3 separate regions of the Homo sapiens genome follow, and regions 2 and 3 are each linked to region 1. Evidence: fine-mapped expression QTL. A gene starts in region 1. Each other region holds a variant in brackets. All regions are shown on one strand. Distances are between the middles of the regions.

Evidence for each region. PIP is the estimated chance that this variant, and not a neighbour inherited with it, causes the effect. A credible set is the group of variants that fine-mapping cannot tell apart.
Region 2: its variant is the best candidate, but not a certain one, in a credible set for the expression of DBNDD1 in lung (TOPMed, PIP 0.55).
Region 3: its variant is the best candidate, but not a certain one, in a credible set for the expression of DBNDD1 in prefrontal cortex (ROSMAP, PIP 0.80).

The regions. Positions count from the first base shown.
Region 1 is chr16:90,017,994-90,020,747 of GRCh38, forward strand. It overlaps DBNDD1 (dysbindin domain containing 1), which reads right to left and starts at 1,463. Exons shown (of 4, transcript NM_001042610.3): 1 at 1,318-1,463. The coding sequence starts at 1,348. It also overlaps a transcript of DRC4 not described here. RefSeq lists silencers at 1,582-1,721, 2,468-2,754.
Region 2 is chr16:90,045,181-90,047,934 of GRCh38, forward strand. It overlaps the pseudogene URAHP. Among named protein-coding and RNA genes, the nearest start is that of GAS8-AS1, 17 kb to the left of the region's middle. RefSeq lists an enhancer at 1,243-1,756. The variant C/A (reference allele first, on the strand shown) is at 1,519.
Region 3 is chr16:89,981,252-89,984,005 of GRCh38, forward strand. It overlaps the pseudogene AFG3L1P. Among named protein-coding and RNA genes, the nearest start is that of SNORA119, 29 kb to the left of the region's middle. The variant T/TTTAA (reference allele first, on the strand shown) is at 1,486.

The DNA of each region.
Region 1 (2,754 bases):
TTTTTTCCCAAAGGAGGAGGGAAAACATATTAACCTCCACTCCCAAATGCCTTGGGCTCCCACAGCCCTGCAGGGGAAGCAGAACTGTCTCCACTGACAGAAATGGAAATTGAGGCTCACAGGGGCCTGACTGCCCACAGTTCACAGCTGGAAACAGCTCGGAGACCCCCAAGCCCTCACTCCCAACCTCCAGGCTTCCTATGTCCACAAAGCTGCTACTGGGAATACCCAGGAGCCTGGGACTATCAGTGTTAAGAAAGAGCTCTGGTCCCTCCCACAAATGACAAATCAAAACCCAAACCCACCAGCCCTGGGGCATTTGTCCCTATACCTTGGACTGCAGATACACAGGGTGGGTGGACCTGCTCCTCCCGGGGACAGCCCTTCGGGCTCCAGAGGATGCCACTGTGTGCGGCTGGGGGACTGAGAGGTTCCCATGTAGTTCCAGAGCGGCAGGCTGGCCTGCCTGTGCCCTCAGGCACCTGCTGGCTCCCTGGAATGGGAGCTCTAGGAAACCAGGAGGTGGTGGGCTTGGCTGGGCAGGTGGAGGAGTCTGCAGTTTGCATCCAAGTTCCTACCTAGGCAAATGGAACCCCGAAAGCCCTTTTGGAAAAGTCTCTGATCGGGAAGGGGGGAGGTTCTGAGAGCTTTCTTCCCGTTACCGACTCCAAGGTCCTGCAGTAGGGCCTCCACCATCAGGGCAGGGAGCGCTCCACGCGCACCTACCCTCCCCGATGAGCGTGCGCCTGGGCCACTCCCGGACCAGCCACCCTTGCAGCTCTGGAGTCCCCGGCAGGCCGCGCCCGTGCATGCCCCACATCCCCAAGACCCATCTCAGCCCCTCGCCCCTGGCAGGATCCCTGCCCGCGAGTCTACGGCCCTCGCCCCCCGGGACTCGCGGCTGGGCGAACAAAGCGGACGCGCTTGCAAGCGGCCAGCGTCGCCCTCACGCCCCACCGACAGGGACCCCAAACTCCAGCCCCGGAACCCCCCTCCCCCGCTCCCCGGGTCACCGGCTGGCTTGGCTGGGAGGGGGCTCAGGACGAAACTCCGGGCCACCCACCAAGGAGCGTGCCGGGCACGGCTTCCCGGGCCGGGAGCGCAGAGAACAAGGGGGCGGAGACTCGGTCCGTGTGCCCCCAGCCCCGCGCGGGGACCGCGCCCGGGAGGTGCCCCTGGCCCGCCGGACGACCCCGAGCTGCCAAAGGGGTCTTCGCGACTCCCGGGAGCGGCGAAGGGTGAGCCCTGGGGGGAGGGGCTGCGGCTCGCTGCGGGGAAGCGCTGCGCGGGGGTCTCGGGGGCTGGGGCTGAACTCACCTCCGGTGCCGGCGCCCTCCGGGGGCTCCATGCGGCCGGTGCGGTCTGGGAGGGGCACGGGCGACGGCGGCGTCGCCTGGCCCGGGCGCCCCAACAGCTGCGGCAGCGACTCGGCCCCGGCTCCGGGCGCAGCGCATCGGGGCAGCAACCGGGGGGCCGCGGCGGCAGGGAGGAGCCCGCGGGGCGGGGCGGGGCGCGCAGCTGCTCCCGGGCCCCGGCCCCCTCCCGGCGCCCCCCCAGCCGCAGGACAGGTGCGGCCCCGCCCCGGCCCGCGCGCGCCCCCTGCTGGCCCCTGGCCCAGCGGACCCCTCCCCCGCCGACCCTTCCCTCGCGGGCCGCGCCCCGCCGCGGACACCACCGGGACCTGGCTGCGCCCTCCCGACCCCGGCCGGGCGTCCGGGGCTCCTGCGCACTCACTTGGCGGCCGCGCCCGCTGGCGTCCTCTTGTTCTCTTCCAGGTACTTGCGTGTGGGGCGCCGACTGTGTGCGGGCGCCCCTCGGGGCTGGCGAGGGGCACAGGAGGGGCCTGACTCGCGCTGGGTAATGACAGACTCACAGAGCGCCCTGGATGGCGCGAATTAACGCGGGGGGCGGGTGGGGGCGAGGGCGTGTGCTTGGGAGGCTGGAAGGGGCGGGATGGGGGATGGGAGGTAAGGAGAGGGCGGCGGGCCCGGGCTGCAGAGAGCGCCAAGGCAGTTTCGATGAAACTGACCCCCATGTCCCTATCGCCCAGATTCAGCGATTGCCAGCTCCTGGCCTGGGCCACTGCTTCTCTGTCCTCATTCACTTCCCTCCACTGCTGGGTCATTTTGAAGCAAATTATATACACATTAGATCATTGCATTTGTAAGTACTTCAATATTTATCTCTCAAAGAAAGTCCGTTTGCAGGAGCATTGACTCATGCCTGTAATCCCAGCCCTTTGGGAGGCTGAGGTGGGAGCACAGCTTGAGCTCAGGAGTCCAAGGCTGCCGTGAGCTATGATTGTATGTCTCAAAAAAAAAAAAGAAAAGAAAAGAAAAGAAAAAGTCTAGTCTTCATAAACACTCTTGTTAACCCAGCATCCAGGCCTTCACTGAGTTGATGCCGTGGCCTGAGGCGGTTTACCTGGTGGATAGTGGGTGGCAGGAAGCATCAGACATCAGACAGAGGGCAGTCGGTTTGTTTGTATTAACATTTGCTCTGGGATTTTGCAGGAAACTCAGATGCCATTTATCTGGGTTTCTGAGCTGCACAGCTTGACACTGAATGAAAGTATCTTAAGCCACATATGTGAAGAAAAGGCTCTTTTCTAAAAATCTGAACTCGAATTCAATATGAAAAGAACAGGTCGCAGTGGGCCCTGTCGGGATCCCAGGGAGCCGCAATTCAGGGCTCCCTGAATGATTCATCTCTGCAGCCCACACCGACAGACCAGGATTGCTCTTAGCTTGTGAA
Region 2 (2,754 bases), 27 kb after region 1:
GCTGAGGCGGGAGAATGGCATGAACCCAGGAGGCGGAGGCTGTAGTGAGCCGAGATCGTGCCACTGCACTCCAGCCTGGGCGACAGAGCGAGACTCCATCTCAAAAAAAAAAAAAAAAAAAAAAAAAAAGTGTGTGGCTTTCTGGGTCAATAACTACCAAACCTTCACCCACAGAGTGGGCCTGTCCAACTCCACGGAGCGTCTGTGTTGTGTGCCCTGGTCCCTTATCAGGGTTCTGAATAACCGTGGCTTTGCCCATAGTCACTTCTGGAAAACCTCCCATCATTCTTGCCAGCTGGTCTTTAAAGTGTGCGCTTCTGCTGTGATTAGAAAGAGCAGGCCCGAACAAGGTGGCTCACACCAGTAATCCCAGCACTTTGGGAGGCCAAGGTGGGTGGATCACGAGGTCAGGAGTTCAAGATCAGTCTGGCCAAGATGGTGAAACCCTGTCTCTACTAAAAATACAAAAATTAGCCGGGGGTGGTGGCAGGTGCTTGTAATCCCAGCTACTCGAGAGGCTGAGGCCAAGAATTGCTTGAACTGGGTAGGTGGAGGCTGCAGTGAGCCAAGATCGTGCCACTGCACTCCATCCTGGGCAACAGAGAGACTCCATCTCAAAAAAGAAAAAGAGCATAGCACGCTGGGTGTGGTGGCTCACGCCTGTAATCCCAGCACTTTGGGAGGTCGAGGTGGGTGGATCACCTGAGGTCGGGAGTTTGAGACCAGCCTGACCAACGTAGAGAAACCCCGTCTGTACTACAAATACAAAATTAGCTGGCGTGGTGGTGCATGCCTGTAATCCCAGCTACTAGGGAGGCTGAGGCAGGAGAATCGCTTGAACCCAGGAGGCGGAGGTTGCGGTGAGCTGATGCCACGCCATTGTACTCTAGCCTGGGCAAGAAGAGTGAAACTCTGTCTCAACAACAACAACAACAACAAACATAGCGTGTGTGCATGAGGGTAATGAGTCTCTGTGACCCTGCACGGGACGCCCAGCCCACACAGTGCTGTCCTAATTGCTCAGGTGGGACCTGGACCCCTCGTGTCTCAGCTTTTGTGAAGGACCACACGACTGTAGGAGCGGCAGGGTCAGACTCTCTCTGATCCTATGGGCCCAGCCCTGTCCTTCTGGCTGGAAGGGAGGGGGCCTGCCTCTTACGCAGGGGCCATGAGGCCTGGGTGGGTGACATCTGCCTCTGGAAGTGCCGCGCAGAGCCTGTGCCTGGGGCAGTGGGCAAGACCCCATGGAGGCTGAGGGACACACTGCCCCTCAGGCCTGGCTGGGAATCCCAGCACGCACCTGGGCTTGCTACCTCAGTCTTCCCATGTGTAGAAGGGTGAATTATGGTGCTGGCCCACGGGGTGTATGGAGAATGAAAAGAGTGGAAATAATGTCCAGCGTACTGCCTGGCACAAGGTTACCCGTGATCTCAGTGAGCTCTTCGATGCCACCTCAGGCCTCACCTCACCACCACCCCCCGCCCTCGCCCTGGCACAGCTGCCAGGGAGAGGCAGAAA[C/A]TCACTCCCACCCCATCAGGGTCACAGGGGCCTGAGGCTGGAGGGAGGGAGGAAAGAGCTCCTCTCCTCATCCCTGTATTTTCAGAGGAGGAAACGGGCTGAGAGAAGCAGAAGAGAGAGCCCCTAACCTCACTCCCAACCCGGGCTGAGAGGAGGGTCGGCAGCGGTGAGCTCCGCCCTCCAGCCTCACTGCCTGGCCCCTTAGTCCCCGCCATCTGTCTCAGGGCGGCACTCCCCCTCCCAGGGCCTCTCTCCTACCTTGTCCTCAGCTCCGCCCACTGCTGGCCGTGGTCCTCCAGCCAGCACAAGCGGAGGCAGAGGCCTCTGGCTGGGAGCCCTGAGGCGGTGTCCAGCACGTGGGTGGTCAGTAGGTTGTCCGGAGGCTCCGTGCTGCTGCCCTGGGCCAGGAGAAGGAGGCCAGGGTGAGCCTCTGGAGCCCTGTGCCCGCCTACCCACACCAATCCTGCGTCCACACCAGCTGTGGGGCTTAAACAGCCCTCTGGACAGAGTTCTCCGAGCTGCCCAGGGGACAGGGGGCAAGGGTGACCGGAAGTGCCCAGGCAGCTGATGAGGCACCAAACGTAAACAGCGCAGCCTGTGCCTGCCGACCCTCCCCCACCAATCCCTGTGGCTCCCCTGCCCCACTGGGGACACCCACTGTCCCGCCCACGGCCCCACGAAATGGCCATTTCCCCCCAGGCCCTCAGTTCCAGCCCCTGGGGTGGTTCTCCCGGAACTGGGCTCTCCTCCGCGCCCCGGTTCCTGGGCCCTCGACGCTCAGCCCCACGCAAGCAGCTGAGGGGACAGGAGCCCTGCAGGTCCAGGCCTGGCCCCCTAACCTCCTGGGGGCCTAGGTGTCGCTGGAGCCTCAGCAGCCGCGGGACGGCCCGGGGGCTCATCCTGCCCTGCCGGACTGCGACGCCCGCGGGCAAAGGGAAGGGCGGGGCCGGTCACCCCGCCCCGGACCACCTCGTGCCCACCAGGAGGGCCCCAGCGGGGCTTTGCCCAGGAAGGTGCGCTGGTGGCGAATCAGGGCGCACAGACCTGGGGCCCAGAAGCGGAGTCGCGAGGACCTGCTGGGGGGTGGTGGGGGCGGGGACGGGGGCGGGGCCGCGGTGAGAAGGGGCGGGACCGCGGTGAGAGGGGGCGGGGGGCGGGGCCGCGGTGAGATGGGGCGGGGCCGCGGTGAGGGGGCGGGGCCGCGGTGAGAGGGGGCGGGACCGCGGTGAGAGGGGG
Region 3 (2,754 bases), 37 kb before region 1:
TAGCCTTGACTTCCCAGGCTCAGATGATTCTCCCACCTCAGCCTCTAGAGCAGCTGAGACCACAGGCTTGCACCACCACTCCTGGCTAATTTTTTTTTAAATTTTTTGTGGACATGGGGTCACCCACCGTTGCCCAGGCTGGTCTCGAACTCCTGGGCTCAAGCAGTCCTCTCACCTTGGCCTCCTTTAGTGCTGGGACTACAGAGCTGAGTCACCACGCCTGGCCTCTGTCTGGATTTTAACAGACCCCCATAAGAGAGAACCCTAGCAACAGTGGCTCAAACACAGCGCTCTCTGTGGACTTTCTGCTTCTCCTGAGGCATCTGCTGAGCTGCGGCTTTCAGTGTGTGTCATACACCACGTAAAGATCTTTCCTCATGAGAGGAACTGAGGCTACATTGTGTACGGTCGGTGGGGGGGGGTTGCAAAACTTTCCTAATAACATCTGAAAAAGGAAATAGCTATTTTCATAAAGAAACTACCTTCATTTAACTGGAAAATGTGTTTTCTTTTTTCCACAGGGGGGACTTCCCCTGGGATGACGAGGATTTCCGCAGTCTGGCCCTTTTGGGGGCAGGCGTTGCCATGGGATTTTTCTACCTCTATTTTCGAGATCCTGGAAGAGAAATCACGTGGAAGCACTTTGTACAGTATTACCTGGCCAGAGGTCTGGTGAGAGGAATTTATAGTTTACCTACCTGGGAAGGAGGCCGCTGTAGTGGTGCACGTGGTCTGCGATGCCCTTAAGAAGCTGTGAGCTCTGAGGCCTGGGTTGAAAACCCGTTGTGTGGTAGATGTCCTGGGCAGTCCCACCCTCAGGCCATAGATGAGACACAGGTTTACTTTTCCCAGTAGCCAGCCCAACAGAAGGTTAGGAAGCTCATTTTTTAGATGAGACACAGTTTTACTTTCCCCAACAGAAGGTTAATAAGCCCATTTTCTTGCAAGGTGGAAGCTTCCTTAACATCTTGGCTTTTTGTTTTTAGCTTCAGCTTCTGTGAGTAAGTTCTGATTGTCTGATTGTGTCTGTTTATCATCAAGTATCAATTACATACCTAATGCAGATCTTTTGTTTCCCCTAGTGTACCCGTGTCCCCTCCTGCACCCCTGTCCTTTGCTGGCTGACCCTGGACAGCGGCTGGGGCTTTGTGTCTGTGCACAGGGGCATGTGGCACCAGCAAGCCTCCGCCTGTCCTTCACTGGGCCTGGTCTGTCGGGTTGCTGAAGGCCGGTGAAGCACTGCTCAGGGTTTAGTAACCAGCAAGCCTCCGCCTGTCCTTCACTGGGCCTGGTCTGTCGGGTTGCTGAAGGCTGGTGAAGCACTGCTCAGGGTTTAGTATAAAGTTACATGAGAGCAGGTGCCGTGCTTCTCAGTTGCCCTCAGAAGGACGTTTGTTAACTGATACAGTGTTAAGATCTGAACTTCTTTCTGTAGGAAAGTCCTGTTTTCCCACCAGGGTTTGTGGCTAAGGCCTTTTTTTTTTT[T/TTTAA]TTAATTAATTAATTAATTAATTTTTTTGAGACAGGGTCTTGCTCTGTCACCCAGGCTGGAGTGCAGTGGTGTGAAGTCTTGACCTTCTGGTTCCAAGCCAGCCTCCCACCTCAGCCTTCTGAGTATCTGGGACTGTAAAAAATGTAATTTTTTTTTTCCGACATGGAGTCTCGCTGTGTCGCCCTGGCTGGAGTACAGTGGCACGATCTGTATTCACTGCAACCTCCACCTCCCTGGTTCAAGTGATTCTCCTGCCTCAGCCTCCTGAGTAGCTGGGATTACAGGTTCTGGCCACTACACCTCCATGGGAGGTGGAGGTTGCTAGTTTTTTGTATTTTAGTAGAGACAGGGTTTCACTGTATTGCCCAGGCTGGTCTCGAATTCCTGAGCTCAGGCAATCCTCCCACCTTGGCCTCCCAAAGTGCCAGGATTACAGGCGTGAGCCACTGTGCCCAGCCCGCACTTTTTTTTTTAGAGACAGTGTCTCCTTATGTTGCCCAGGCTAGTCTCAGACTCCTGGGCTCAAGTGATGCTCCCACTTTGTCCTCCTGAAGTGCTATGATTACAGTTGTGAACCACCACCCAAGGCCTTTTTGTCTGGCCACAGGGCACACACCTGTCTTCAGAGAGGTCCCTGATGACTCCTTATGGGAGGAAGGGAGAGCTGCTGCAGCCCATCTCTGCTGTTGGTCTTCACTCACAGCTGCTGCTGTGAGGAGCAAGATGCCTGCTGGTGTGTGGGTTCTGGACAGATCCCAGAGCTTCTGTGAGGTCCTCTCCAGGTATCTGACACGCTGACCGTGATGCGGTTGCGTTATGGTCAAGAGGCCCCTGTCATAAACACGTTCGTGTTGGTCACATGACCCTGAGTAGTCAAGAAAAGTAGGGTTATAGTGGTTTCAGATTCTGTGGAGAGGAGAAAGCAACGCTGTTGTCATGATACCTAAGGAAATGGCCGCACTCTCAAGTTGTGTTTTTGCTGCGCACCGGCTGTCGGGCTGTGTTCGCCGCTGGGTGGCTTCGTGGAGGCCTTTGGGGTTGCATTTTCATTCTTGGTGGCACCATTTTCTTGTGGTATCTGCAGCTGTGTGGGCGAAATGTTTCTGGATGAGTTCCGGAAGACTTTGCTGTATTGTCAGTCTGAGACCTCTATGCCTTTTAGATTTTTTTTTTCAGATGGAGTCTCACTCTGTTGCCCAGGTTGGAGTGCAGTGTACAGTCTTGGCTCATTGCCACTTCCGCCTCCCGGGGTCAAGCAGTTCTCCCTG